6 separate regions of the Homo sapiens genome follow, and regions 1, 2, 3, 4 and 5 are each linked to region 6. The links come from fine-mapping of genetic effects on gene expression. A gene starts in region 6. Each other region holds a variant in brackets. All regions are shown on one strand. Distances are from middle to middle.

Evidence for each region.
Region 1: its variant is fine-mapped to the expression of MIER2 in thyroid (GTEx, PIP above 0.99).
Region 2: its variant is fine-mapped to the expression of MIER2 in sun-exposed skin (GTEx, PIP 0.97).
Region 3: its variant is fine-mapped to the expression of MIER2 in whole blood (INTERVAL, PIP above 0.99).
Region 4: its variant is fine-mapped to the expression of MIER2 in whole blood (INTERVAL, PIP above 0.99).
Region 5: its variant is fine-mapped to the expression of MIER2 in nasal epithelium (TOPMed, PIP 0.91).

The regions. Positions count from the first base shown.
Region 1 is chr19:399,155-404,021 of GRCh38, forward strand. No RefSeq gene overlaps it. Among named protein-coding and RNA genes, the nearest start is that of C2CD4C, 7.6 kb to the right of the region's middle. RefSeq lists an enhancer at 1-31. The variant C/T (reference allele first, on the strand shown) is at 2,276.
Region 2 is chr19:284,547-288,546 of GRCh38, forward strand. PLPP2 (phospholipid phosphatase 2) reads right to left here. Exons shown (of 6, transcript NM_003712.4): 2 at 3,474-3,625; 3 at 2,928-3,205. Among named protein-coding and RNA genes, the nearest start is that of PLPP2, 4.9 kb to the right of the region's middle. RefSeq lists enhancers at 2,579-3,080, 3,081-3,580. The variant C/T (reference allele first, on the strand shown) is at 1,885.
Region 3 is chr19:243,593-248,459 of GRCh38, forward strand. LOC101928344 (a long non-coding RNA gene) reads right to left here and starts at 2,933. Exons shown (of 13, transcript XR_002958438.2): 1 at 2,805-2,933. LOC107985295 (a long non-coding RNA gene) reads right to left here and starts at 1,739. Exons shown (of 2, transcript XR_001753827.2): 1 at 1-1,739. The variant T/C (reference allele first, on the strand shown) is at 1,751.
Region 4 is chr19:303,063-307,929 of GRCh38, forward strand. It overlaps MIER2 (MIER family member 2), which reads right to left. Exons shown (of 14, transcript NM_017550.3): 13 at 4,057-4,474; 14 at 2,511-3,649. The coding sequence ends at 3,628. LOC124904605 reads right to left here and starts at 1,299. Exons shown (of 2, transcript XM_047439789.1): 1 at 331-1,299; 2 at 1-264. The coding sequence starts at 1,299. The variant T/C (reference allele first, on the strand shown) is at 1,939.
Region 5 is chr19:308,793-313,659 of GRCh38, forward strand. It overlaps MIER2 (MIER family member 2), which reads right to left. Exons shown (of 14, transcript NM_017550.3): 8 at 4,700-4,851; 9 at 3,399-3,480; 10 at 3,053-3,147; 11 at 9-133. Among named protein-coding and RNA genes, the nearest start is that of PLPP2, 20 kb to the left of the region's middle. The variant A/G (reference allele first, on the strand shown) is at 2,245.
Region 6 is chr19:342,336-347,202 of GRCh38, forward strand. MIER2 (MIER family member 2) reads right to left here and starts at 2,461. Exons shown (of 14, transcript NM_017550.3): 1 at 2,439-2,461. The coding sequence starts at 2,447. RefSeq lists an enhancer at 566-1,517 and silencers at 1,826-1,935, 2,236-2,285, 2,356-2,805.

The DNA of each region.
Region 1 (4,867 bases), 57 kb after region 6:
GCACCTTTGACCTACAGTGGCCCGTGGTCTGAATGAGGTTTATGCGTGAGTGCTTTGAAAGCTCAATGTTGCCATCACCTGAAGCCTAGAGGGCAGTGTGCACTGGGCACCTCACTTACACAGGAGGAAACTGAGGCTCAGAGAGGGGGAGGGGCTGGCAGTGTGGGAGCTGCAGTCCTTGATCTGAGCTGTCCCCGTGACTTTGGGAGATGAGGAAGGAGCATTCTGTGGCTTGGCTGGGGGAGCCCAGGTGGGAGGGGAGGGTGGGGACACAGTGGCTGGTGGGCGGGGGGGTGCCTCTGAGCCGCCTGGGCCACAGGCAAAGGGGTTAGGGAGGTGAGAGGGGAGCTTGGGGGCAAGGGTCATGTGTCTCCACGGCCGGGCAGGTGCACACTCCCAGGGAGGCCACGAGGACTCTGTGGCCCGGGGATTGGAGTGAACCACGCTGAAAGGTCAGAGGGCAGTGTCCCAACAACAGTGCCCCCGTTCCAGCCCCAACGGCAGCCCAGGGGTTCCCAGGCCCACCCTCACTCTTGCAGGGGTCCCCAGGCCCACCCTCACTCTTCCAGGGTTCCCAGGCCCACCCTCACTCTTCCAGGGTTCCCAGGCCCACTCTCACTCTTCCAGGGTTCCCAGGCCCACCCTCACTCTTCCAGGGGTCCCCAGGCCCACCCTCACTCTTCCAGGGGTTCCCAGGCCCACCCTCACTCTTGCAGGGGTTCCCAGGCCCACCCTCACTCTTCCAGGGGTCCCCAGGCCCACCCTCACTCTTCCAGGGGTCCCCAGGCCCACCCTCACTCTTCCAGGGGTCCCCAGGCCCACCCTCACTCTTCCAGGGTTCCCAGGCCCACCCTCACTCTTCCAGGGTTCCCAGGCCCACCCTCACTCTTCCAGGGTTCCCAGGCCCACCCTCACTCTTCCAGGGTTCCCAGGCCCACCCTCACTCTTCCAGGGTTCCCAGGCCCACCCTCACTCTTCCAGGGTTCCCAGGCCCACCCTCACTCTTCCAGGGGTCCCCAGGCCCACCCTCACTCTTCCAGGGGTTCCCAGGCCCACCCTCACTCTTGCAGGGGTTCCCAGGCCCACCCTCACTCTTCCAGGGGTCCCCAGGCCCACCCTCACTCTTCCAGGGGTCCCCAGGCCCACCCTCACTCTTCCAGGGGTCCCCAGGCCCACCCTCACTCTTCCAGGGTTCCCAGGCCCACCCTCACTCTTCCAGGGTTCCCAGGCCCACCCTCACTCTTCCAGGGGTCCCCAGGCCCACCCTCACTCTTCCAGGGGTTCCCAGGCCCACCCTCACTCTTGCAGGGGTTCCCAGGCCCACCCTCACTCTTCCAGGGGTCCCCAGGCCCACCCTCACTCTTCCAGGGGTCCCCAGGCCCACCCTCACTCTTCCAGGGGTCCCCAGGCCCACCCTCACTCTTCCAGGGTTCCCAGGCCCACCCTCACTCTTCCAGGGTTCCCAGGCCCACCCTCACTCTTCCAGGGTTCCCAGGCCCACCCTCACTCTTGCAGGGGTTCCCAGGCCCACCCTCACTCTTGCAGGGGTTCCCAGGCCCACCCTCACTCTTCCAGGGTTCCCAGGCCCACCCTCACTCTTCCAGGGGTCCCCAGGCCCACCCTCACTCTTCCAGGGGTCCCCAGGCCCACCCTCACTCTTCCAGCGGTTCCCAGGCCCACCCTCACTCTTCCAGGGTTCCCAGGCCCACCCTCACTCTTCCAGGGTTCCCAGGCCCACCCTCACTCTTCCAGGGGTCCCCAGGCCCACCCTCACTCTTCCAGGGGTTCCCAGGCTCACCCTCACTCTTCCAGGGGTTCCCAGGCTCACCCTCACGCTTGATGATTTGCGAGGACGCACGGAACTCCCAGCAAGCTGTCCTCGTCACAGGTAGGGTTTGTCACAGTGCCGGGGTGCAGGTGCCGTGGGCTGGGGAAGAGCACATGAGGCAGCGTCCCGGAGAAGCCCCGTGGTCCTGTCCGGGGAAGCCGGGAACTGCTCACTCACAGGGCGCACGGACCACCAGGAAAGGGCACGGCAGCCTAGGCGCCCAGAGCTCTGCGAGGGATCCCTCGTGGGGGCTTGATTGACTGATTGCTTGCCACGGGGTTGCCCTCGAACTCCAAGGGTGTCTGACGCTGTGAGACCCAAGGCGCTCCCAAGTCCCACGGTTGGTCTTGCTGGTGTGACCCTCCCTACCCCAGACCAAGACGCTCCCCTCAGGCAGGGCAGAAATCACCTCCCAAAGCCAAGGCAAAGCCCAGACCTCACCCCGCA[C/T]GAGAGGATTCCTCACCCCACGGGGGAAGGTGCGGGTCTCATCCGTGGCACCGCAGCAGGGCTCAGCCGGTGACCAGGACTGGGTGCCACGGGTGCTGGGTCCGTGCCCACTCCAGCCCCACCAGCAGGCAGGGAGGGTACAGGGTGCTGCAGAGGAAACCGAGTCACAGAGAACGGAGGGACTTGTCAGGATTCTGACCCATGGCTGGCAGAGCACAGCTCCCTGGGGCCCTCTCTGCCAGATGGCAGGGGCCGGCCATGCAAGCAGGTGTCCAGTCCCACCCAGGAAGGGCAGCGTGGGTCCAGCCCTGGTCCGAATTCCTGTCCTGTCAGCTGGGAGGTGTGCGCAGGCCCCTTTGCCTTCTGTGCCTCGGTGTTTCCATCTGTGGATGGCAGTAGGCAGCGTCTTGCTGAGGATTCAGCGGGTCCTCCCGCCCACCCACCCACGATGCGCTTAATCAACAGGCCCTGCCCTGCGTGTGACCCTGGAGAGAGGCTCTGGGACCACGTCACTGTACAGTAGGGTAAACTGAGGCTCAGGCGCCGGCCCGCGGGAATGGCCCGCCCTCGTGGGAGGAGCATGTGTGCGGGTCGGCGTCCGCCTCCTCCTTTTTATTGAAGTCATTTTTCTCCTCCTGTCAGCGGAACTGGCCGTGGGCAGCCCCTCCCTCCCACCCCCAGGAGCTGAGAAGAAAACAAAAGCTTAATCGAATCCGGCACTGGGGCGGTGGGTGCCGCAGAGAGAGGCCGAGGGAGCCCCCGCCTGGGTGGGTCTGAGGCCGCCTGTAATTATGGCCCTGATGTGATTATATTAATTATCGTCGCTATTTTGTGCCGGCTTCCGCCCGGCGAGCCTGTGGATTGAGCTCTACTGCACACAAGCCGCCAGGGCTCATCACAGACAGAGCCTTCGGCCTCGGGAGCCTGAGACCCAGAGAAGCCACGCACTGCCCCGGGCCACACCCCACGTGGAAGGTGGGGCTTGAAACTCACCCTGCGGCTCCCCACACACGTCAGGGTTAGAGGTTCAAGGCCCCAGAGAGGACAGGCCGCAAGGCAGGGGCCCTGGGAAGGTGTTACTCCTCCTCCTCGGATGGGAGAGACCCACTGGATCAGTGTTCTGTCACCTTAAAAAATGAATCAGCCGGACGTGGTGGCTGACGCCTGTAATCCCAGCACTTTGGGAGGCCGAGGCAGGCGTATCACCTGAGGTCAGGAATTTGAGACGAGCCTGGCCAACTTGGTGAAACCCCGTCTCTACTAAAAATACAAAAAACTAGCTGGGTGTGGTGGCGGGCGCCTGTAATCTCAGCTATTTGGGAGGCTGGGGCAGGAGAATCGCTTGAACCCTGGAAGAAGAGGCTACAGTGAGCCGAGACTGCACCTCTGTACTCCAGCCTGGGCGACACAGCAAGACTCCGTCTCCAAAAAACAAACAAACAAAACAAAACAAAAAAACTGAAACAAGCCGGCTTGAGCAAACAAGGCACTTTACCGGCCCACCCTCTGAGCTGAAATGGTGCGCAGTTATGGACTTCAGGCATAGCTGGATCCAGGTGTCCGCAATGTCTCCAGGCTTCTGACTCTTCATCTGTTGTTCCCTATGATGGCTCCCCTCTGAAGAAGGGGCATCTTTTTGTAATTTGCACCAAACGGGGTGCCCCCCGCTTGTGGTGCCCATGGCCTTCCTGAGGGTCGGGAGACTCAGGATGGCCGCCAGTCTGAAAGGAGAGACTGCTGGCAGGTGTGCCTGCCTCCTTCACCGCACAGCACCCACTGGGGCCGAGCGCTCTGTGGCGCCAGGGATGCTGGAGGTGCAAACAGTAGATTCGTTCTGCTCAGGATCAACATCACAAGGCAGCAAACGGCCACAGCCAGGAGGGAACAAGGGCATCTGACTCCCCCGGGGTGGGGGCTGACCTGAAGGGCAGTGGGCCAAGACCTGAGGCAGGGCGAGACACCACGCAGGCGCAGAATCCCTGGATGACGCCCACTTGGAAGTGGAGGGGGGAGGGCATGGGCAGCTGCAGCTCCCAGACACCAGCACACACAAACGCACACACAAGTGCACACCAGCAGCGACACAGGCACACACAAGCGCACACAGGGTCACACATGCATACACGGCTCACGTGCTTACACGTGCACACGCCAGCACACAGGCAGCTATACTCGAGTGCCTGCAGGCGCTCACCTGGCACTGTCACATACGCCCAACAGATGAGCACGGTAACGGCACACGCAGTCACACTGCACACACATGCGGAAGCACATGGCGACGTGTGTGCACCTACCTGGCACGCACACGCACACACCCGTGCAGCCTAGCGATGAGTGGCTGGGGCTGAAGAGGCTACAAGGCGCCCGTAGCCCTGTCAACCCGTCCCAGGCCCTGACTGGGGCTCACCAGGCCGCGGTCAGGAGGCCGGGCTACGCTGAACCCCAATTCCCAAAAGCTCCTGGTGGATTTGAGATGGCAGAGACATCTGGACCCCATGGGCAGCAGGAGAGACAGAGCAGCCCAGCCTGGGCTGAGAGCACAGGGACGGGTCCTGCCCCGAGGGGTGTGAGGGGGGGACGGGGTCCTGCCCT
Region 2 (4,000 bases), 58 kb before region 6:
AACAGTTGTGTGCCACCAAGCCTGGGTTCTAGACAAACACTTTTAGTTAGCCATTTAAAATATGTTCAAAGAAAAAAGTAAAAATAAATAAATACTATGTTCAAAGAGCCAAAGGAATATGAGAACAATGTCTCACCAAACAGAGAATATCAATAAAGAGAAAGAAGTTATAAAAAGGAACCAAATAAAGATTTGGTTATCTGAAATGAAAAATCACTTGAGGGAGGCTCAATAGCAGGTCTGAGGAAGCAGAAGAAAAAAGACAATGAACTTGAAAATAGGTCAATTGGCCGGGCACAGCGGCTCACACCTGTCATCCCAGCACTTTGGGAGGCAGAGACGGGCAGATCACAAAGGTCGGGAGTTCGAGACCAGCCTGGCCAACATGGCGAAACCCCGTCTCTACTAAAAATACAAAAATTAGCTGGGCGCAGAGGCACACGCCTGTAATCCCAGCTACTCGTGAGGCTGAGGCAGGAGAATCGCTTGAACCCAGGAGGCAGAGGTTGCAGTGAGCTGAGATTATGCCACTGCACTCCAGCCTGGGAGACAGAGCAAGACTCCAACTCAAAAAAACAAAGAAAATAGGTCAATTAAGATTATTTGGCCTGGCACGGTGGCTCAGCCTGTAATCCCAGCACTTTGGGAGGCCGAGGCGGGTGGATCACCTGAGGTCAGGAGTTCGAGACCAGCCTAGCCAACATGGTGAAACCCCGTCTCTACTTAATACAAAAAATTAGCTGGGCATAGTGGTACACACTTGTAATCCCAGTTACTCGGCAGGCTGAGGCAGAGAATCTCTTGAACCCGGGAGGCAGAGGTTACAGTGAGCCGAGATCGTGCCACTGCTCTCCAGCCTGGGGGACAAGAGAGAGACTTCGTTTCAAAGAAAAAAAAAAAGATTATTCGGCTGGGGCCAGGTGTGGTGGCTCACGCCTGCTACTCAGGAGGCTGAGGCAGGAGAATTGCTTAAACCGAGGAGGCAGAGGCTGTAGTGAGACAAGATCACGTCACCGCACTCCAGCCTGGGCGACACAGTGAGACTCTTTCTCAAAAAAAAAAAAAAGAAAAGGAGAAAAAAAACATTATTCAGCCTGGCCGAAAAAAAGAAAAAAAAAAAAGATTATTCAGCCTGGCCAGGCATGGTGGCTCACGCCTGTAATCCCAGCACTTTGGGAGGCCAGGGTGGGTGGATCACCTGAGATCAGGAGTTCGAGACCAGCCTGGCCAACATGATGAAACCCCATCTCTACTAAAAATACAAAAAGTTAGTCGGGCGTGGTGGTGCACGCCTGTAGTCCTAGCTACTCAGGAATCTGAGGTAGGAGAATCGCTTGAACCCAGGAGGCAGAGGTTGCAGTGAGCCAAGATCACACCACTGCACACTGCACTCCAGCCTGGGTGACAGAACAACATTCTGTCTCAAAAAATAAAATTAATAAAAGTAAATGAAAATACAAAAATTAGCCGGGCGTGGTGGCGCACACCTGTAATCCCAGCTACTGGGGAGGCTGAGGCAGGAGAAGCACTTGAACCCAGGAGATGGAGGTTGCAGTGAGCCAAGATTGCACCACCGCACTCCAGCCTGGGCCCAGACTCTGTCTCAAAAAAAAAAAAGAAAAAAAAAAAAGATTATTTACCCTGAACGGGCTCAGTGGCTCACACCTCTAATCCCAGCACTTTGGGAGGCTGAGGCGAGAGGATTGCTTGAGCCCAGGCATTCGAGACCAGCCTGGGCAACATGGTGAGACCCTATTTCTACAAAAAAATTTAAAAACCAGCTGGATTTGGTGGTGTATGCCCGTAGTACCAGCTACTTGGAAGGCAGAGGTGGGAGGATGGTTTGAGCCCAGGAGTTCAAGTCCTGGGCAAGATAGCAAGACC[C/T]CCATCTCTAAAAGAAAAAAAAAATTAAAAGCAAAACAAACAAACAAAAAAAGACAGTAATGAGGAATTGAAAAAAGAAGATATAACCTAAGCAAACCTCAACGAAATGACAGAGGTCCTTCCTTATCAGTAATTACATTGAATATAAATAAACACTCCAATTAAAAGTCAAAGTTTCATTAAATGCCTTAATTCAATAAAAAGATTAATATATAATTTAAAAAACATTAAAAAAAAAGTCAGAGATCTGGCTGGATGTGGTGGCATACACCTGTAATCCCAGCACTTTAGGAGGCCAAAGTGGGCGGATCGCTTGAGCTCAGGAGTTCAAGACCAGCCTGGGCAATATGGCAAAACCCCGTTTCTACCAAAAAAAAAATAAACAGTAGCTGGATGTGGTGGCACGTTCCTGTAGTCCTAGCTACTCGGGAGGCTCAGGTGGGAAGATGGCTTGAGCCTGGGAGTCCGAGGCTGCAGTGAGCTCAGATCATTGCACTCCAGCCTGGGTGACAGAGTGAGCCTCTGTCTCAAAAAAAATCAGAGATTGGACAATACATTAAGAAACATGGCCCAATTTCATGCTAGGTATAAGACACTTACTTTACAGTCAGAGACATAAACAGGTTGAAAGTCCAAGAATGGAAAAAAAAAATATTCCATGCAAACAATAACAAAAAGAGAACCAGAATAGCTATGTTAATATCAGACAAAACAGACATCAAGACAAAAATTGTTGAGACAAAACTCATATATCTCATTCTATGATGATGAAATGGTCAATCTTTCAAAAATATATAACAATTACAAAGGTAAATGTACTAAACAACAGAACCCCAAAATACTTAAAGCAAAAACTGACAGAATGTTACAACATGGATGAACTTCAAAAACATACAAGAATGCACTAACTTATACAAAAATTAGCCGGGCGTGGTGGCGCACGCCTGTAGTCTCAGCTGCCTGCTGGCTCTTCATGATTTGGCTCCAGGGCCTTCTTCAGCTCCCATTCCCCACAAGAGTGAAGGCTGCTGGTCCACACCCACCTGGCCTCGGTGACATCAGCAGGGTTTCCCCTGCACACCTTCTCCAGCTGCACATAGACCGAGCAGTTGACCCGGCTCCAGTCGGGGTCGCAGACGGCTAGGAAGTTGGGCCTCAGACGCCCAATCATGTACTTGGCCAGGTCTGTCAGAGACTGGCTCACGGCAGCCCCAAACAGGAAGGTCCCCAGCACCTTGTATACAGCAGCCACGTAGTTGTTGAAGTCCGAGCGAGAATAGAGCCGGTCTGTGTACACCAGGTAGGCTTCCCCGGCCGAGACCTGCAAGAGCAGCCGCAGGAACCAGTGGGGGTCTCGGTCGGCCCAGGGGCCCTCACTCCTCCGCACGGGCCTCCCCAAGGCTGCTGGAGAGCTGGGGACTCTGAAGGGGGCCCTATTACCCACAGGTACCACTCAGGGCAAGGCTGTGTCCCCCGGCCCCACACAGACCTCCAGGGCAGGGCTGTGCCACCCCCCCATCAGGCCCCCAGGGTAAAGCTGGCCCCACCCCATCCCCCTACCCAGTCCCTCTGAGCCCCTCCTGCCTTACAAGGATGACGGTGGCCGTGATGGTGACCCCAGCCATGAGCCCGTGGGTGATGGTATCTGGACGGTAGGGGTACCGGATGGAGTCATCCCCGCAGTAAAATCCTCGCTTGTACGGGGCGTTCACCAGCGTCAGGATAGCGAAGGGCAGGGAGGCTGGTGGGGAAGAAAAGCCTGGGAGCTGTGAGGTTCTCTCACCAGCTGGGCCTTGGGGCCCCACACACCTGCCTTGGCCTGGAGGCCTCCCACCTCTACTCTCACCAGACAGCAAGGAAGAGCTTTTTTCACAGCCCAAATAACACTCCCTTTCGCATCCCCTCAGACAAACACAAACTCCTCAGGCGCTCTGCCCCTCACATCCTGGCAGCCTCCTTTCTGCTCCTTGAACTAACTCAGCAAACACCCACCTTTGCACAGCCACTTCTCTCTGCCCAAAATATCTTTTTTTTTTAAATTTTTAAAAGTAGAGACAGGGGTCTCATGTTGACCAGGCTGGTCACAAACTCCTGGGCTGGAGCGATCCTCCAGCAT
Region 3 (4,867 bases), 99 kb before region 6:
CAGATACCAAGTTTCAGACATGTTGCATTTTAATTGAAAGGTTGATATAATTTTTTTTAAAGAACACTTGCGGTGTTTGAAGTGACAAAGGCTGCTGTGACAAAAAAGCAGGGAAAGGGAATTTTTTTTTAAAAGCAAACAACAACAACAAAAACCCCACAGAAAAGCAAACAACAAACAAACAAAAAACAGAGGAAGAAGTCGAACACCCTGGGCTGTGACTACTTCCAGGAAGGGGCTACAAGAGGCAGTTGGAAATTCTATTTGTTTTGCAACTGTGGGTTTTCCGGCCCGCTTCCTTTCTAAAGTATATTACTCTGCTTTTGGTTCATGAAGTTATCCATTTCTGTTTTCTGGAACAGCTATGTATTTTCTTTATCTATCATCTATCTATCTATTTACCATCTATCTTTTCTACCTTTCGCTATCAAGAGCTTGGGTCAAGCAGGATAGAATTCCAGTGTATGTTCACTCTACCATTTAAAACAAGAGCTCTTGTAGGCATTCTCCATCACATCATAAACCTGAGCTTTCTAAAACAGGGTGTGGCAAACTACCATGCATGGACCATGTCTGACACAGTCTGCGTTTGTAAGTAAAGTTGTAATGGGACACAGCCAATACATGTGTTACATAATGTCTCTGGCTATTTTCATGGTATAATGGAAGAGCTGAGTCATTGAGAGAGAGACCATATGGCTTGGAAAACTTAAAATATTTAACATTTAGCCCCTTGCAGAAAATACTTGCTGACTCTTGTTTAAAAGATCTCTGTTTAGAATGCTACCTATTGAGTTCTGGATAGAATCACAACTCTTTACCACAATCAACACCGCTTCAGCCCTGCTTCTATATCCAGCCTCATCTATTTCTGCTCCTCCTCATTTTCCTTCTGGCCATGCTGATGGATTGTCAGCTTCCCAGATGTGTGAGAATCTCTCCTCCCTTCCTAACATTCTCATGCTCTCCCTCTGCCTCTCAAGAACTTCCTGCCCCATCTCTCATGACAAATCCTTTCTACATTCTTTAAGATGCAGCCCTTTTGCTCCTTCCTTAAGGATGTCTTGTCTGGCTCTATTTTGGGTGACGTGCTCCTTCTGCATCTCCCAGAGCCAGCCTGTGTGTGTCAGCTACAACATTTCTTTGCATCTCTGTGTCATATATCACCAAATCTGCCTAAGCTTGCATGAGTCACTGCATGACAACTTCAGACTCCACCAGCATTGTCCCCACTAACCACAAGGCTTAGACATTCGTCCAGTATGCTCGGGGTTGTGGGGTGGTAGCAGTAACTGGCTGGTGACCATCATTTCTTACATCAGAATCAAATCTGTAGATCTCTGCCATTCATAAGTATTTGGAGTTTAAAATTAGCATAAAGATTTTCCTTAAAATAAGAAGAAAGGCCTTGAGTAGGCTTTTGGAACATAGGATGTTTCCACTGGTTCATTTCTGTGTTCAATATTCCCACATGAATCTGAACACGACTCTGCTCTTAGTAGCTATGTGACCCTGGGAAAGTCACTCAATCTCCCTCAGCTAAATTTTGTTGTGTGAGTAATGAGGAGAGAGTTGTGATTTGTATTTAGTGAATAATAACAAACAAAAGGCATTTAGCTTTCTGGAACCTGGTATGTAGTAGAACCTCATGAAATACTAGCTCTGTTGATAAAACTAGACTGAAAGAAGCTTTCAAAGTCAACAACAGTTTGAGGCAGTGAAGGACGTAGAGGAGAAGCTGCTGCTGCAG[T/C]CTGTAGCTCCTGGAAGCCCGTTTTGTCCATGATTTAGCAGGAATGCATTACCCTTCCATGAGGAGGCACAGCCCACAGAAACCAAGGCCATTCTTTGAAGAAAAACATGTCTTAATAGGGTTTACATTATGTAACAGTGTAATACAAATAATAATTTATTATTAGTAATAATATAAAATTATTTACAGTACCGTAACCCTAACTCTAACCCCTAATCCTAACCCTAACCCCTAACCCTAATCCTAACCCAAACCCTAACCCTAACCCAACCCTAACCCTAACCCAACCCTAACCCAAACCTGACCCTAGCCCCTAAACCTAACCCTAACCCCTAACTCCTAACCCTAACCCCTAACCCTAACCCTAACCTTAACCCCTAACCCCTATCCCTAACCCTAACCCCTAACCCCATAACCCCAACCCTAAACCCAACCCCAACCCCAACCCCTGACCCTGACCCTGACCCTGACCCCGACCCCTAACCCTAAACCCTAACCCCTAACCCTAACCCTACCCCTAGCCCGAACCCGAACCCTAACCCTAACCCCTAACCCTAACCCCTAACCCTAACCCTACTCCAACCCCAACCCCAACCCTAACCCCTAACCCCTAATCCCCTAACCCTAACCCCTAACCCCTAACCCTCACCCTAACCCTAAACCACATGAGCAATGTGGGTGTTATATTTTGGGTGTCATGTGTGCCTTAGGAATGCTGCATTTGTATTCCAACGCTGCAACTGGACCCTGCAATGCAGCCCCTCGCCTTGCCTTGGGAGAATCTCGGTGCGCAGGATTCAGAGGGGCTTTTGGTTTCCCGTTTTCCACACTGAACCGTTCTAACTGGTCTCTGCCCTTGATTATTCACGGCTGCAACCGGGAAAGATTTAATTCACCGTCGATGCGGCCCCGAGTTGTCCCAAAGCCAGGCAGTGCCCCCAACGTCTGTGCTTAGGAGAATGCTGCTCCACCTTTACGGTGTCCCCCAGGTCTGTGCTAAGCAGAACGCAGCTCCGCCCTCGCGGTGCCCTCAGCCCGCCCGCCCGGGTCTGACCTGAGGAGAACTCTGCTCCGCCTTCGCAGTACCACTGAAATCTGTGCAGATGAGAACGCAGCTCCGCCCTCGCGATGCTCTCCGCGTCTGTGCTGAGGAGAACCCAACTCCGCTCTCGCAAAGGCACGGCGCGCCGGCGCCGGCGCAGGCAGGCGCGGCGCGCCCGCGCAGGCGCTGTTCGGGAGACGCGGCGCAGGGCATAGACGCACGCCTCCGCGTCCCCGGAGGGGAGGGGTCTCTGGGCGGGCGGGAGTGAGGCGCGGCGCAGGTGCAGGCGCAGAGACGCACGTCGCTGGGCTCAGGGTGGCGGGGCGTGTTGCAGGTGTACAGTCGCACGCCGCTGGGCGGGGAGCGCGGGAATGGCGAGGTGCAGGCGCAGACACACGTCCCCGGCGGCGCGGCGCACAGACGGGTGGAACCTGAGTAATCTGAAAAGCCCGGTTCGGGTGCCCCCTGCTTGTACCCGGGCACTACAGGACCCGCTTGCCCACGGTGCTGTGCCATTGCGCCCCCTGCTGGCGACTAGGGCAACTGCAGGGCCCTCTTCCTTACAGTGGTGTCCAGCGCCCCCTGCCGGTGCCGGGGCACGGCAGGGCTCTCTTGCTCGCAGTATACTGGCGGCACGCCGCCTGCTGGCAGCTAGGGACATTGCAGGGCCCTCTTGCTCACATTGTAGTGGCAGCACACCCGCCTGCTGGCAGCTGGGGACACTGCTGGGCCCTCTTGCTTGCAGTGTAGTCGGGGCATGCCCTCTTCTGTCCGCTGGGGGCACTACAGGATCCTCTTGCTCACAGTGTAGTGGCAGCACGCCCCCTGCTGGCAACCAGGGCACTTCACGGTCCTCTTGCTCATGGTGTGGTGCCCCTACGCCACCTCCTGGCAGCTAAGGACACTGCAGGGCCCTCTTGCTCACAGTGTAGTCGTCGTTCGCCCCCTGCTGGCAGCTAGGGACACTGCCGGGCCCTCTTGCTGACACTGTCGTGGCTGCACGCCACCTGCAGGCAGATGGGGACTAGGCAGGGCCCTCTTGCTCCCGGTGTGACGGCTGGCGTCCCCTACTGGCCGCCTCCTGCACCACTTAAAGTCAGAGCGCCAGTTATTAATCCCCATCAGTTCTGTAAATTAAAACTGAAAAGGAGCTATTACTGGGGAGAGCTGATGTCCCAGTTATTAACTTGGAAGAAAGATTTTCACCAAGAGGCAGTACAAAGATGGAAGATAACTTCATTGAAAAGAAATACAGTGTAAAGAGCTTATTGTAGGAAAATAGGGAGGAGTGGGTTCATAGTGCATGAAAACAGCCTAAGAGTCCTGTGCAGGGAATTTTATTTTGGACTTCTTCACATTCCTGCCTCTGTCTCAAGTCTATGCTTGTTTTCCTTGGTTTTCCTGCTACTGCCTTAGGTCCCTGACTTGCCCCACTTAGGCTTGTGGGACCTCCTGTTGATTGAGGTACACGTGGGGTGATGAATCTGAATCCACTCTGGCACCAACCTCCTTCCTGCCATCCCAGGCAGGCTGACAGCAGTCACGTTTGTATCTACTGCACCTGCCTCTTTTGAATGTCTTTCTCTGCCCTAATCTGTACTTATGGTGCCAGGTTTCTCTTAGGAATGTCCCCTTTGTCCTTCTTATCAGCATGTAGCTAGCAATATTCTGACATTTTTATTGCAGAGTGAATGATGATTGGGGCATCTTAAGAGAAGTTCTAGGGTGTTTCTGCGTAGGTACCTCTTCTCCCTCCTAACCACAATTGACAAGTGCCCATCCTCTCCAGCACTGGAGATGCTACTAATATGTGCATTTTTGGTGGTCCCTCCAGGTGAGCCTTCACAGACTTTCCCTTTTCCAGGAGCTCCCCCTCCTGTTCATGTCTAGCTAGCTATCTACTCTAACAGAGCCCACTATCCTGTGTCTTTCCCAAAAATAGTGAGGGAATTATTAATTGGAAACCATAAGAAATCATATGCATGTAGATGAAAACTTTACAACTTACACAAATAATCACTCAAAATCATCCTTACACTAAAAAAGCAAAACTATACAATTTCTAGAAGAAACTA
Region 4 (4,867 bases), 39 kb before region 6:
CTCATCAGACTCAATACACCAAAGCACATCCTCATCAGACTCCTCAATACACCAAAGCACATCCTCATCAGACACCTCAATACACCAAAGTACATCCTCATCAGACACCTCAATACACCACAGCACATCCTCTTCAGACTCAATACACCAAAGCACATCCTCATCAGACTCAATACACCAAAGCACATCCTCATCAGACACCTCAATACACCAAAGCACATCCTCATCAGACTCAATACACCAAAGCACATCCTCATCAGACTCCTCAATACACCAAAGCACACCCTCATCAGACACCTCAATACACCAAAGCACATTCTCATCAGACACCTCAATACACCAAAGCACATCCTCATCAGACTCAATACACCAAAGCACATTCTCATCAGACTCAATACACCAAAGCACATTCTCATCAGACTCAATACACCAAAGCACATCCTCATCAGACACCTCAATACACCAAAGCACATCCTCATCAATACACCAAAGCACATCCTCATCAGACTCCTCAATACACCAAAGCACATTCTCATCAGACACCTCAATACACCAAAGCACATCCTCATCAGACTCAATACACCAAAGCACATTCTCATCAGACTCAATACACCAAAGCACATTCTCATCAGACACCTCAATACACCAAAGCACATCCTCATCAGACTCAATACACCAAAGCACATCCTCATCAGACTCCTCAATACACCAAAGCACATCCTCATCAGACTCAATACACCAAAGCACATTCTCATCAGACACCTCAATACACCAAAGCACATCCTCATCAGACTCAATACACCAAAGCACATTCTCATCAGACTCAATACACCAAAGCACATTCTCATCAGACACCTCAATACACCAAAGCACATCCTCATCGGACTCAATACACCAAAGCACATCCTCATCAGACTCCTCAATACACCAAAGCACATCCTCATCAGACACCTCAATACACCAAAGCACACCCTCATCAGACACCTCAATACACCAAAGCACATTCTCATCAGTCACCTCAATACACCAAAGCACATCCTCATCAGACTCAATACACCAAAGCACATTCTCATCAGACACCTCAATACACCAAAGCACATCCTCATCAGACTCAATACACCAAAGCACATCCTCATCAGACTCAATACACCAAAGCACATCCTCATCAGACACCTCAATACACCAAAGCACATTCTCATCAGACTCCTCAATACACCAAAGCACACCCTCATCAGACACCTCAATACACCAAAGCACATCCTCATCAGACTGCTCAAAACCAGTGGTACTGAAAAATCTTCAAAGCAGTTGGAGGAAAAAAACCAAGAGAGGACTGAAGATTTCCTGCTGGAGGCAGGGCAAGCTGGAAGACAGAAGACCTTGCACATCTGAAGAAAACGTCAGCAGGCTGCGGCGCTCCAATGAAAACTCCTCTATGCCCATCCCCAAACACCCAGGTTGCCGAGTGGCTGGCCCTGGTTCTCACAGCTCCTGGCACAGGCTCACCAGCAAGACCCCTGACTCTCCCACACCCATCATGCAAGTGGTCCTGGTCCTTCACCAATAGTCCCTGAGGCCAAGCCACAGTCACCTCCCAGCTGGGGGCCGGCCCTCCCCATATCCCATCACCATGCATGCCCACATTTCCCTCACTGATGTGGACAATATGCAACCCAACCAGCCTGCACCGTCCCTGCAGGGCGCTATTAACAATGCAGACCTCAGCCGGGCGCGATGTCTCACGCCTGTAATCCCAGCACTTTGGGAGGCCGAGGCGGGAGAACACAAGGTCAAGAGATAGAGACCATCCTGGGCAATAAGGAGAAACCCCATCTCTACAAAAAATATAAAAAGTAGCTGGGCATGGTGGCGGGCGCCCGTAATCCCAGGTGGCGGGCGCCTGTAATCCCAGCTACTCGGGAGGCTGAGGCAGGAGAA[T/C]CGCGTGAACTCAGGAGGCGGAGGTTGCAGTGAGCCGAGATCGCACCACTGCACTCCAGCCTGGCGACAGTGTGAGACCCTGTCTAAAAAAAAAAAGCAAAACAAAACAAAAAAACAATGCAGACCTAAAGTGGCTTCCACACCAAGAACAAAACTTGGCCTCATGACCTACTGTCCCCACCCCGCCCAACCTCTGCCCTCTGTGCCCTCAGCTTCTCCTGGAGACCCAGGCCTCTGTCCTCTGCATCTGCTGTCACGCCTGCCAGGCCTCTCGGCAAACTTTCAGCAAAGGAGGCCCATTCTCCTTCATGTTTCAGCTTAAATATCACTTCTAGGAGGCTGCCCCGACCACCTCTACCCAGACGTGGGCCCTCCTCACATCCCGTCATCGTGGCCACAATTCCCTTACTGACGTGAACAATACGTAGCCCACCACGTCATGCCCCCGGTGCACCCCCTCGCCCGTGTTGCTCACGACTTATCCTGGACCCTCCAAGAGACATGCAGGCCCCCAAGTGAGATGACGAGGACACCTGCCGCCCCAGCCCCCACCCGATCCACCACAAGGCACCCCGGGCTTCAAATCAAGTTTAATAAATAAAACAGCAAAGGGGGGTTCAAGGCAGTTATCACTTCACAGTGTGGTCCTTGGTGGGGTGAGGGATGGTCGAGTCCAACTCGGAAAGGGGCTCGAGCACAAGAGGCCGGACGACACCCGGGGCAGGGCGCGCCGCCGCCCACGGAGGACCCCACTCCAACGTGTAAACAGAAACAGAAACGAACGAGAGGGCCAGGGAGGAGGGGGACCAGGACTCCAAGCCATCTTGCTAGGAAGCTTCCCACAGAAGGAAGACCTGCAGGGCTGGGGAAACAGGCTGGAGTCTGGCCCCTGCGTGGCCAGCAGGGCCGGCTCCTCCGGAGGCTCCCTGCCTTGGTACCGGGGGAGGACAGCAAAGGGGATGTAAATCACCTGTCTCCTCAAACCCACGCCTGGGGTTGCTGAGGGACCCCACCCCAACCGCTCAGGATCGGGGAGCAGGGATGGAGGGGGAAGAGGCAGGTGGGGGTGTAAAGTGCGGCTTTTCCTGAAGTGGAGACGATGGGGTGGGAAGGCGAGGCTGGGGTGGGGGCCGGACAGCGAGGTATATGGCTCTGTGCCCCACGGGGTTGGCACTGAGTAGCAGCTGCCCACGACCCCCAGGGCTGGGGCAGCCCGCGGCCCTGCCGGGTGTGGAGAGACAGAGCCAAGCAGGGAGCTGAGGGCGCCCCGGCGGAGGCTGCTGGTGCGGGGCAGGGCGTCCTGCCCGTCTCCCCGCCGGGGCAGTGACGCCTTCCCTCGCCTCTGCTGGCTGGAAGGGACTAGGTGGCCGGCTCTGCCCTGCGTCCCAACGGCGGGGTCTCTTCTGTCCCCGGCTGCCCGACGGATCCCACGTGCAGGCAGCGGCCCGGACCCGGGTGGCAGTGCCGGGCGCTGACGGCGCTGGGTGGGGCCGTGGGTCCATTCTGTGTGGACAGGGGCAAGGGCTCACGGCCCAGCCACCTCACCCCAGTCCTGACGTGTTCTGAAGCAGAAGGAGGTGCTACCCCAAGGCCCGGGGGGTGGGGAAGGGGTCAGGAAGACTGACAGAGGCGGGCCCAGCGGCAGCGCTAAGTCCAGTCTGGGCCGCATACGCCGCCCGCGGCCAGGAGTCAGCAGGTCATCACGTTACAGCTGCAGGGGAGAGACCAAGAGAGACGCAGAGAGTGTCAGTGCGGCCCCACGTGCCTGCACAGCCCAGTGCTGAGCGCTGGACTCGAGACTCCCAGCCTTGCCTCCCCCACAGCCTATGGCAGCCGGGCCCGGGGTGCCCTGAGGGGAGCTGGTGGCTGGAGCAGGGGTGGGACAGCCTGGCACCTGCTCCCATTTGTGGAGAATGTGGACCACATGAATGTATTCTCCAGTCAAAAAATACATACAAGTAAAGAATAAACCTAAAGACACACTGAGAGCCTGCTCGTGGAGCCACACTGTCCTCGGGTCCTTGGGGCAAATGCCTCCCACCCTCCTCTGCTCAGCCTGAGGGCTGGGGGGACCTGGTTGGAGTGTTGCGGAGGCTCCGGGCATGGGGTGGCACTCACTGTGACAGGGGCTCCGAGTGTAGCCCGGGGGCCGGGCACGTGGGGTGGGCGGCCAGGAAGGGGTTCACGTCCCCAATGCCGATGAGTCCAAACTCGGTGACCGACAAAGCCACCTGTGCTGGGGCCACAGTCTCCTCCGGATCCCCGCTGAGGTCCACATGGCTGGAGATGAGGGGCAGCTCCTTGGGCAGGGCGAAGTCCACGGCCAGCCTTGGGCTGGCGTCTGGCTCCGGAGCAGTGACAGCTGGCTGGTATGAGGCTGGGTCGGCCAGGGCTGGGGGCCGATGGGACAGGGGTACAGCGGGGGACTCATCCAGCTGCTGGAAGGAACACGGCCCTGGCTCCGAGGACGGGAGTCCATCAGAGGCCACTCCGGGCTCATCGAGACCACCGGCCGTGCCATCCACGCTCAGTGGATCTGTGAAAGAGAACGCAACAGAGGGTGGGGCCTGCCCACAGCCGCGGATCCTGTGCAGGCTCCTGCCTAACTTTGCTGGGTCCAGCAAAGCCTGTGGATCCCTCCCCAGAAAAGCCTCCACACAAATACAAAAGACACCAGTTACACTGAAATCCGCGAGCCCCAGGTTAAGGGTCTCAGCTTTAGAAGTAGATTTTAGTTCATCAGACCAACAGTGGGTCACAACCCACATCTTTAAAAAGAGCAGAATACAATAGACATAGGTGTAAACAATGCCGGGGGCACTGCAGAGGGTAAATACAGGGTCTGTGGAATACACAGACTTAGGTGTAAACAATGCCGGGGGCGCTGCGAGGGCTAATACAGGGTCTTTGGAAGTTTTGTTCCCACAGG
Region 5 (4,867 bases), 34 kb before region 6:
GCACGCACGTGGTTCCGGACGGGACGTACTTCCTCCGGCCCAGCCGCGTCTGCTGGGCGAAGTAGTCGTAGCGCTCCGACTTCTTCCACAGGTAGTAGTACTCGACACACTCGCCCACTGACCGTGTGCGCACCTGCGGGGAGGGGTCAGGAGCCATCTCTGTCCCCGGCTGCCCAGCCCCAGCACCTGCACCACGATCCCAGGACGTCCTGGGACCCCGGGACAGCACAGAAGGAGCACAGCACCCACCACTCTCAGATAACGCAAGACCCCCCGACCCATGACCCTAACAGGCCACAGGCTATGCCCACCACAGGGAACAGGGGCTCGGAGCACTGTGGCACTGCCTCCTGTTTCAAGCCCCCTCAGAGCCCTCCAGCTCCTGGCTTGAGACCCCTTTCCCTTCTGTAGCATCAGCCAGACAAACGTACCCTCCAGGCCTCTGTCTACTGCTCACCCACCCCATCCCAGACCATGAGCCACGGGCCAGTTGCGTCCACCTCATCTGCCTGCTTCTCACAGGCCCGGGGTGGGAGTGGGAGTGACAACCCCCGGGTCCACAGACTCCTGGACTGAGCCCCTTCCCCGGGAGGAAGAGGCACAAGCCCGCGGCGCCTGCTTTCCCACCGAACACATCCCTCCAGGGCCCAGCGAATGCTTCCCAAGTGCACAGAAGACACCGCAGAAGGACACATGGGTTCTGTGAACCCGACAAAATTCCCAACGTAGCACATAAAGGGCCAAACACACATGCACACAGGCTTCAGGGAGACGAGAAGGGACACACACACACACACACACAAGGCTTCAGGGAGACGAGAAGGGACACACACACGCACACAAGGCTTCAGGGAGACGAGAAGGGACACACACACACACACACACACAAGGCTTCAGGGAGACGAGAAGGGACACACACACGCACACAAGGCTTCAGGGACACGAGAAGGGACACACACACACGCACACAAGGCTTCAGGGAGACGAGAAGGGACACACACACACACACACAAGGCTTCAGGGAGACGAGAAGGGACACACACACACACGCACACAAGGCTTCAGGGAGACGAGAAGGGACACACACGCACACAAGGCTTCAGGGACACGAGAAGGGACACACACACACACGCACACAAGGCTTCAGGGAGACGAGAAGAGACACACACACGCACACAAGGCTTCAGGGAGACGAGAAGGGACACACACACACACGCACACAAGGCTTCAGGGAGACGAGAAGGGACACACACACACACGCACACAAGGCTTCAGGGACACGAGAAGGGACACACAGCAAGTGTGTTCCATGTGGCACCTGGCACAGAGCTGGGCGCACACCTGGCAACACCTCCAACATCTCCACCCGGGAGGCTCATCCCACAGAGAGCTTGAGGCTGTGGCCACTGCTGGTGATGGCGGAAAAGACCCCCTCACCTGGACATGCTCTGGGCCAACTAACCCACCGCCACCCAGAACGAGGATGCCCCATGCTCACCGCTGCGAGAACAACGTGGGGTCCTGCCTGGGGGCGAGACCGAGACAACCTCCCTGCAGGGCAAACCTCAAACGCACGCCACGAGGGAGCTCTTCTGTGAAGGGCCAGGGTGAAATACGCACTGGCTCAGGCTGACCAACGTGTGCTGGCTACACACGGCCCCTCGCGGCTGGGCCAGGACCTGCCCGGAGCTCCAGAAACACGGCCGGGAGTTACAAAAACGCGGCCCTGAGCTATAGAAACACGGCCCGGAGCTGCAGAAACACGGCCCGGAGCTATAGAAACACGGCCGGGAGCTGCAGAAACACAGCCGGGAGCTATAGAAACACAGCCCGGAGCTATAGAAACAGCCCAGAGTCCAGAAACACAGCCCGAAGCTCCAGAAACACAGCCCAGAGCTATAGAAACACGGCCCGGAGCTATAGGAACATGGCCCGGAGCTGTAGAAACACAGCCCGGAGCTACAGAAACACGGAGTCCATAGAAACACGGCCCAGAGTCCAGAAACACAGCCTGGAGCTGTAGAAACACGGCCAGGAGTCCAGAAACACGGCCCACAACTCCAGAAACACGGCCCGGAGCTACAGAAACTTGACAGGGGCTCCAAGTGTAGCCTGGGAGCACCACACTCCAGCCACACCTCGCCCCGCTGTCTCCAATCAAAACACCACGTGGTGCTGGAGTCTGACAAGGACAGTCCATCGCTGCTGCGCACGGCACCGCACAGTCACCTGAGCAATGTCCTG[A/G]GCCGTACAACCAGCCCCGGGCAGGTGCCTCCTCACCCAAGCCCTTCAGTGGACGACATCGGGCCCCAAATGGAGCACGGTCCCAGGACACGAGGCAGAAGCAAGGCTCGGCAACAAGGCCACAGCCCACTGGTCCTGAAGGGACTCAGTGCCCAACCGGGGCGTGGACAGAGGCGGAGAAGCCACTGGTCAGAGCCATGGGAAGGTTTTCAGCCAGAGATGTCTGACTGCCAAGAGGCTGGCTTGGAAGTTACCACTCAAGAAGCCACAGGGCAGAGGGCACTGCTGCAGACATGCAGAGACCCACAGAGGACGTGGGGAAGGTCTAAGGAAGGGCAGAAGGCCCCGGCACTTGGCAGCACCTGCCTGTCATGAGGGTTTGTCCCGGGTGGCAGGACCTGGGTCCCTGGAGGAGGGAACCAGGAGACCCCTGGTCTCCAGGTGTCAGGGGTTCTGCTGTGGGGCCAATGCTGGACACTGAGCCAGCAGGCTCTGCTCAGAGGACACAGACTTGAAGATGAGGTGCCCAGGGCCCTGGGGTGGAATGTGAGGCAGAAACAACTACTAGAATTCAGCTTTTGCCACATTCTTTCCCAAAGCCAGAGCCTTGTTCTTGTGGGGACAGGAAAGGGGCCCACAGCAGTCAGTAGCAAAAAATGCAGAAGACAGCAATGGGCACACGGTGAGGAGGCGGACACAGGACACGGGGCTCCAGGCCTCCAGTCGGCCGTGTGCTGTGTGCCTGCGGACCCTGAGCCCCTCCCCAGATCGAGAAGCCCCCGGTGGAGCCTGGCAGTGGAGTCCGCACCTTGTTGGCCTGGATCAGGTGAAAGTTCTTTCCATGCACACGGAAGCCGTGCTCAAAGTTCCTGCACTCCTCTTCACTCCAAGCACAGAGCCCATCTGCAAACACGGCCGGGGAGAACGGTCAGTGGTGCCCAGGGCGGGGCCGCAGCGGAAGGAAGGCCCAGGCCGGGGAGAACAGTCAGCGGCGCCCAGGGCGGGGCCGCAGCGGAAGGAAGGCCCAGGCCGGGGAGAACGGTCAGCGGCGCCCAGGGCGGGGCCGCAGCGGAAGGAAGGCCCAGGCCGGGGAGAACGGTCAGCAGTGCCCAGGGCGGGGCCGCAGCGGAAGGAAGGCCCAGACCGCTGCTCACCTCGGATCACCTTCACGTTGAACCGCAGCCTTCGCAGGGCCTCCTCCACATTGAAGTTGCATTTCACCAACTCGTACAGCGCCTGGGGAGAGGACATGTTGGCTCTTCCATGGGCTCAGCGCAGGAGCCGACAGCAAGAACTGTCTATACCATCCAGCGAGTGGCATCAGGGGCCGTCCACACCACCCTCCTGGGCGATGTCAGAGCCACCTACACCTCTATCCAGGGAGTGACATCAGGGGCCGTCCACACCACCCTCCTGGGCGATGTCAGGGCCACCTACACCTCTATCCAGGGAGTGACATCAGGGGCCGTCCACACCACCCTCCTGGGCGATGTCAGGGCCACCTACACCTCTATCCAGGGAGTGACATCAGGGGCCGTCCACACCACCCTCCTGGGCGATGTCAGAGCCACCTACACCTCTATCCAGGGACTGGCATCAGGGGCCGTCCACACCACCCTCCTGGGCGATGTCAGGGCCACCTACACCTCTATCCAGGGAGTGACATCAGGGGCCGTCCACACCACCCTCCTGGGCGATGTCAGGGCCACCTACACCTCTATCCAGGGAGTGACATCAGGGGCCGTCCACACCACCCTCCTGGGCGATGTCAGGGCCACCTACACCTCTATCCAGGGAGTGACATCAGGGGCCGTCCACACCACCCTCCTGGGCAATGTCAGGGCCACCTACACCTCTATCCAGGGAGTGACATCAGGGGCCGTCCACACCACCCTCCTGGGCGATGTCAGGGCCACCTACACCTCTATCCAGGGAGTGACATCAGGGGCCGTCCACACCACCCTCCTGGGCGATGTCAGGGCCACCTACACCTCTATCCAGGGAGTGACATCAGGGGCCGTCCACACCACCCTCCTGGGCGATGTCAGGGCCACCTACACCTCTATCCAGGGACTGGCATCAGGGGCCGTCCACACCACCCTCCTGGGCGATGTCAGAGCCACCTACACCTCTATCCAGGGACTGGCATCAGGGGCCGTCCACACCATCCTCCTGGGCGATGTCAGGGCCACCTACACCTCTATCCAGGGAGTGACATCAGGGGTGTCTACATCCCCTTGCAGGATACCCGGAGGCGTCTACACCTCCTCCCTGATACGTGGTTTTAATTGGCCCCCCTTCTGACCTGAGTAGCTGTTCCAGTGCCCTGGCCCCCACACACCTGACCCCTGCCCTCCCCTCTGCCCTCCCTGGCCCCTGGAGGCACTGGGGTGTGAGCTCTGGCCCACGCCACGGCAGCCCTCAGCCCCTCTGTCCCCGGCATGGCAGCCCCCACCTGCTCACTGTCTTTCACGGCTTCTCCCTCTGGGAGCTGAGGCCCGGCCATCTCGTGCCAACGCCGCTTCACCGCCCTGTACAGGAACTCCTCCACCTCCCTCTCAGGGAGGACGCTGGGGTCCCAGAGCAGCTGGTCTTCGTTCTCGTAGACTGCACAAGCAGAGGG
Region 6 (4,867 bases):
AAACAGGGCGCACGGGCTCTGCAACTGCGGGTCAGGGAAGGCCTGGGGGGCCTCAGTCGAGGTGGAACCATCGTTGGCAGCCCCCAAATGGGTAGAGTGCACCAGCAAACAGGAGCCCAGGGCCCTAGAGTAGGGGGCAGATCCGTGGGGACCACCTCACAGGGCTGTGGGACTCAGCAAGGAGGAGCATTTTATCCCAGGGACCATGAAAAGCCATGGAGGGTTTTAGGTAGGAGCAAAAGATGGTGCTCTTAGGTTTTTAAAAGATCAATCTAGTATGCCTGAGAAAAGTATGAAGCATTCCCGTCTGCCACTGTGGTGCTTATGATTATTCTGGGATACTGATACAGAATAAAGTAGCTAGTACTGATCACGTGCTATAAAGTTACAAATTGCCACTTTTACGGGTTAAAAACAGTGGAATATCGTCAACTTCACAAGATTCAACTTCCATGTACAAGCCGTTGTGGCAGGACCTCATCAGACCTCCTAGCTCTGAAGGGTGACCATTAAACTTCCCATTTCAGAGATGAGGAAAAGGAAGTTCTGAGTCACTGGGCAACCTGCCCAAGACCACACAGAACAAGTCCGGTGGTCAGACAGCTTGCCATGGCTCCTCACGCTCAGCACCTCATACTTGTTGGTCCTAACCCACCCACGTCTCTCTCTGACCAGACTCTGCATCCCTGTAGGAGAGGCCCTGTCTGCTCCATTCACTCCCAGATCCTCAGGCCGAGGACAGAGCGGGACCTCCTTAGAAAATCAAATCAAATTCACTCAACAGGGCACCACCCCAAAGTGTAAAACAGGGTTAACAGGAGCAGCCGGACCACAAGCTGCTGTGCACATTTACGGAGCTCAGCCTAGAGCAGGGCAGAACAGCCACATGGCAGCTCTGGGGGAGGCTGGCTTGGGAGTCTGACTTGTGCCATCCCAGACACAGAGCTACCTGTCAGGCCACGTGTGTTGCCCAGATTCCAGGAGCACAACTCATTCGACCACCACGTCGCTGCAGGGCCACTGGGAGACGCGGCTTCTGCCTCCGACCCTGGAGGACAGCCACCATCTGCATGGGGACTCAGTCTCCCTAAGCGTCTCAAGAAGAACTAATTCTCGATGAAGGAACTGGCCGGTGGTCTGGCCTAGTATCGAGACACCTACACCGTCTTTGGCATAAACACAGGGCCTGTTACTGCCCCTGAGGTCGTCACCAGGGGGAGAGAATGGCCAGTCCTGCCTCCCACAACGCCCAAGACATAAACACGCAACGTGGCACCACGGCCAGGCCGCAGTTCCAATCCCGGCTTCCCACGAGGCGGCTGTGCCTGGCTGGGTGGGCACCTTTTCCTTTGGGCTCTATCCCAGAGATAGGATCAGCTCTTGAGTCTGCCCGCCTGTCGTAACTTCTGCGCACAGAAGTCATGCACTGAGTCCCACTGACTGAGCACCTCGCAGCCGCCGCACCTTCACCTACATTATCTCTTTCCATCTTCACCAGGGCCCTCCAAGGTGAAAGCAAGTCCACACAGGCTCATCCACCACTCCAAAATCAAAAAAAGCTTCAAAAGCGAAAGTTTCTTCCTTCCTGGTTTGACCTGACACGAAGCTATCTGTTGTCTTATCCTAGACAGTCCTAGGTGGGTTTGATCAAACATCACAGTCCAAAATCCCACAGATCCTCAAATTGGAAAAATTCTGGATTCCAAAATATAGCTGGTCCCAAACATTTCAGATAAAGGGTCCCGGGCTTGTTTCCTGGACGAGGGAGGAGGCTCCAGAAGTAACTTCGTGCCCGGGAGAGGCTGGTCCAACTCTTCTGAGATCAGCCCCGACGCTCTCTAGGCCCCGGCAGACCCACCCACCCTGCGCCCAGTTCGCGCCAGGCGGGTCCGCGTCGGGAGTTCAAATCCCGCCCGGGGTCTGACCCAGCCCCGCCGGGGGGCTCGCGGGCGGCGGAGGCGCGGTGGGTCCACCGGGATCCCGATGGGGAGCGCGGGGCGCCTGGCGGCCCCAGCACTCGGCAAAGTTGGCAAAGGCGCGGGAGGGGAGGCCTGCGCGCCGCGGGGCCCGGGCCGGGGCCGGGAACCGGAGCCGGACCCTGGAACGGAGCCGCGCGCCCACCGGACCCCCGACACCAGCCCCGCCCCGCGTCCCTCCCCTCCCCCACCCCGGCCCCCGCCCGCCCCGCGCCGCCGCGCATGCGCACTGCAGCCCGCGATGTGGCAGCCGGGGGAGTTGGGGGGTGGGGGCCGGCCGGGGGCGGCCGCCGATGGAGCCCCGCGCCCCTCCGGCCCCGGACGGGCCAGGCGCCCCGGCCGGCCTCAGAGCTCCAGAGCGGGGCTCTCCGTCCCTGGGGCCCACGACGAGGCCGAGCCACGGCGGCGGGGGGCGCGGACGCGCGGGGGCGGGGGGCCGGCTCCCCCGGCCCGCTCACTCACCTCCGCCATGGCCGTGTGTGCGCGGGAGGCGGTGGCCGCGCCGGGATCCCCGGATGAGGGGCCGCGCACTCATTGGCTGTGGAGCCTGGAGGGCGGGGCAGGGGGCGGAGCCTGGAGGGGGCGGAGAGCGGGCCGGGCGCGTAGTAGGTGCGCGGGCGCGGGCGCGGGCGCGCAGCCGAGCGTGGCCGGCGGCTTCTGGCGAGCTTGCGGTGTCTTTCCGGCCGTCTCTGCTGGACCCTGATCTTGGCCTTGGCCTTGGCGGAGGAGACTGCATTCCATAAAAATACGAATTCCTGATAATCACACCTGCGTGGGGACCACGTGGTCCTGTGTGACCTCTTCATTCCCTCGGCTGCTCGCTGTTAATACCCCGCGTGGCAGACTAGGAAACTGAGGCCCAGGGCGACGGGCCACCCAGAGTGTCAGTGATAGAGCCAGAATTGGTGTCCGGGCTGCGTGGTTCTGGAATTTTCTGCACTTTCGCACCCGTGATGAGCAAACTAGCGCGCGGAGGAACCAATCGGGGAGCTTGCGAACGCGCACCAGTCGGAGAGGTTTTAGAAACGGTGGCCCCGCGCCGGAGAGCCCAAGGCGGGAGGCAGGGAGGTGGGCTTGACCCCAGGGCCATTTGGTTCTGCAGTCCGTCGTTTCGCAGATTGAACATTTCTGGAACACGTGCACGTTCTGATCCTGAGGGTTTGAAGGAGACAGCCCTAACGCCTGTCTTCAGGGCGTTTAGAGTGGAGGATGGGAAGGCAAGGACTCGCCACACCTTAAATTTGAGACGGATAAGTGCCGTGAATCTTCGGGGCGCACGATGCAGAGAGAGGATAGGAAGCAGGGGTGGGGCGTGAAGAGGCAGGGGCCAGGTGGGAGCTGTGGGGCCTGGACCAGAGTGCAGAGAGACTTGAGAAGGTGGACACCACAAGACTCGCTGATGGAGGGAAGCTGGAGAGAGTGAAGGATGGCCTCCAGATGTCTGGCTTGCGCAAATGAGTGGAGGGCGGTTCCTACTGAGACCAGGAAGAAGAGAACTGGAGACCAGGAAGAAGGGAATTGGGGACCAGGAGGAAGGGAATTGGGGACCAGGAAGAAGAGAATGAGTCTCATTCCTGTTTCCCAGTGATCAGCCAATGAATAGTGAGAACTTGACATGCATCAGCCTTGATTCCTGATGCAAAATCATTACTCAGTCCTCTGAGAATTCACCAACCAAGAGATAGAAGAACCACTCTGGAGGGGTCTACCCTCACTCCTTTTTTGGTTTACATCATTGAGATTGAGGGTTCTGGCCCTCGTGTTGAAGAGTCCTCACTGATTTGTGCAAGAGTTGGTTCCTTCCTTTATTATTCATTTGTTATTATTCATTCAGTCATTCAGTGAACTAAACACATATCTTATGCAGTCCTCAACTGGGTGCTGGGTAGCCAGAGGTCCTGTGAAGCAGGGAGAAGCATGAACAGATAAGAGAGTGAGGTGCTGTGCTGTAACAGGTGGAGGGGCCCGAAGACAAGGGCTTGAGTCCACCTGGCAAAACGAGGGAAGACTCTTAGGAGAGGGCTTGGCAAGAATCATCACATAGATGTCAAATGAGGACTTGGGTGAAGAGAAGGGTATTGTGGCTTGGAACGGTGACTCACACCTCTAATCCTAACACTTGGGGAGGCAGAGGCAGGAGGATCACTTGAGGTCAGGAGTTTGAGACCAGCCTGGGCAACAGGGTGAAACCCTGTCTCTACTAAAAATACAAAAATTATCCGGGCGTGGTGGCGAGTGCCCATAATCCCAGCTATTCTGTGGAGGCTAAGGCAAGAGAATCACTTGAACCTGGGAAGGCAGAGGTTGCAGTGAGCTAAGATCACTGCACTCCAGCCTGGGAAACAGAGTGAGACACTGTTTCAAAAAAAAAAAAAAAAAACTTTAAACATTAGAGGGCATGACGATAATGTGCCTGTAGTCCCAGCTACTCTGGAGGCCGAAGTGGGAGGATCTCTTGAGCCCAGGAGGTCGAGGCTGCGGTAAGCAGTGATTGTGCCACTGCACCCCAGCCTGGGCAACAGAGTGAGACCTGTCTCAAAAAAAAAAAAAAAAAAGAGTGAAGGATATTTTAAGGTCTGAAAGTCTGTCTCCGTAGACTGTTAGTCGCAGTGGAGAAATGAAGCCACTTGTTGGGTGGGTGATAAAACTCAGCATCCCTGGTAAAGGGCAGGTGCACACCATGTGCACCTGGATGTGGTGTCCAAAGCAGGACACGGCATCACTGAATCCAGCCAGCAATGCACAACCCATATCTACATATGAGGAAATTTCAGACAAACCCAAATAAGGAATATTCTGTTAAACAAAAGAGGGACTGTATTCTTCAGAAATGTTAATGCCACAATGGGGCGTGGTGGCGGGTGCCTGTAATCCCAGCTGCTCAGGAGGCT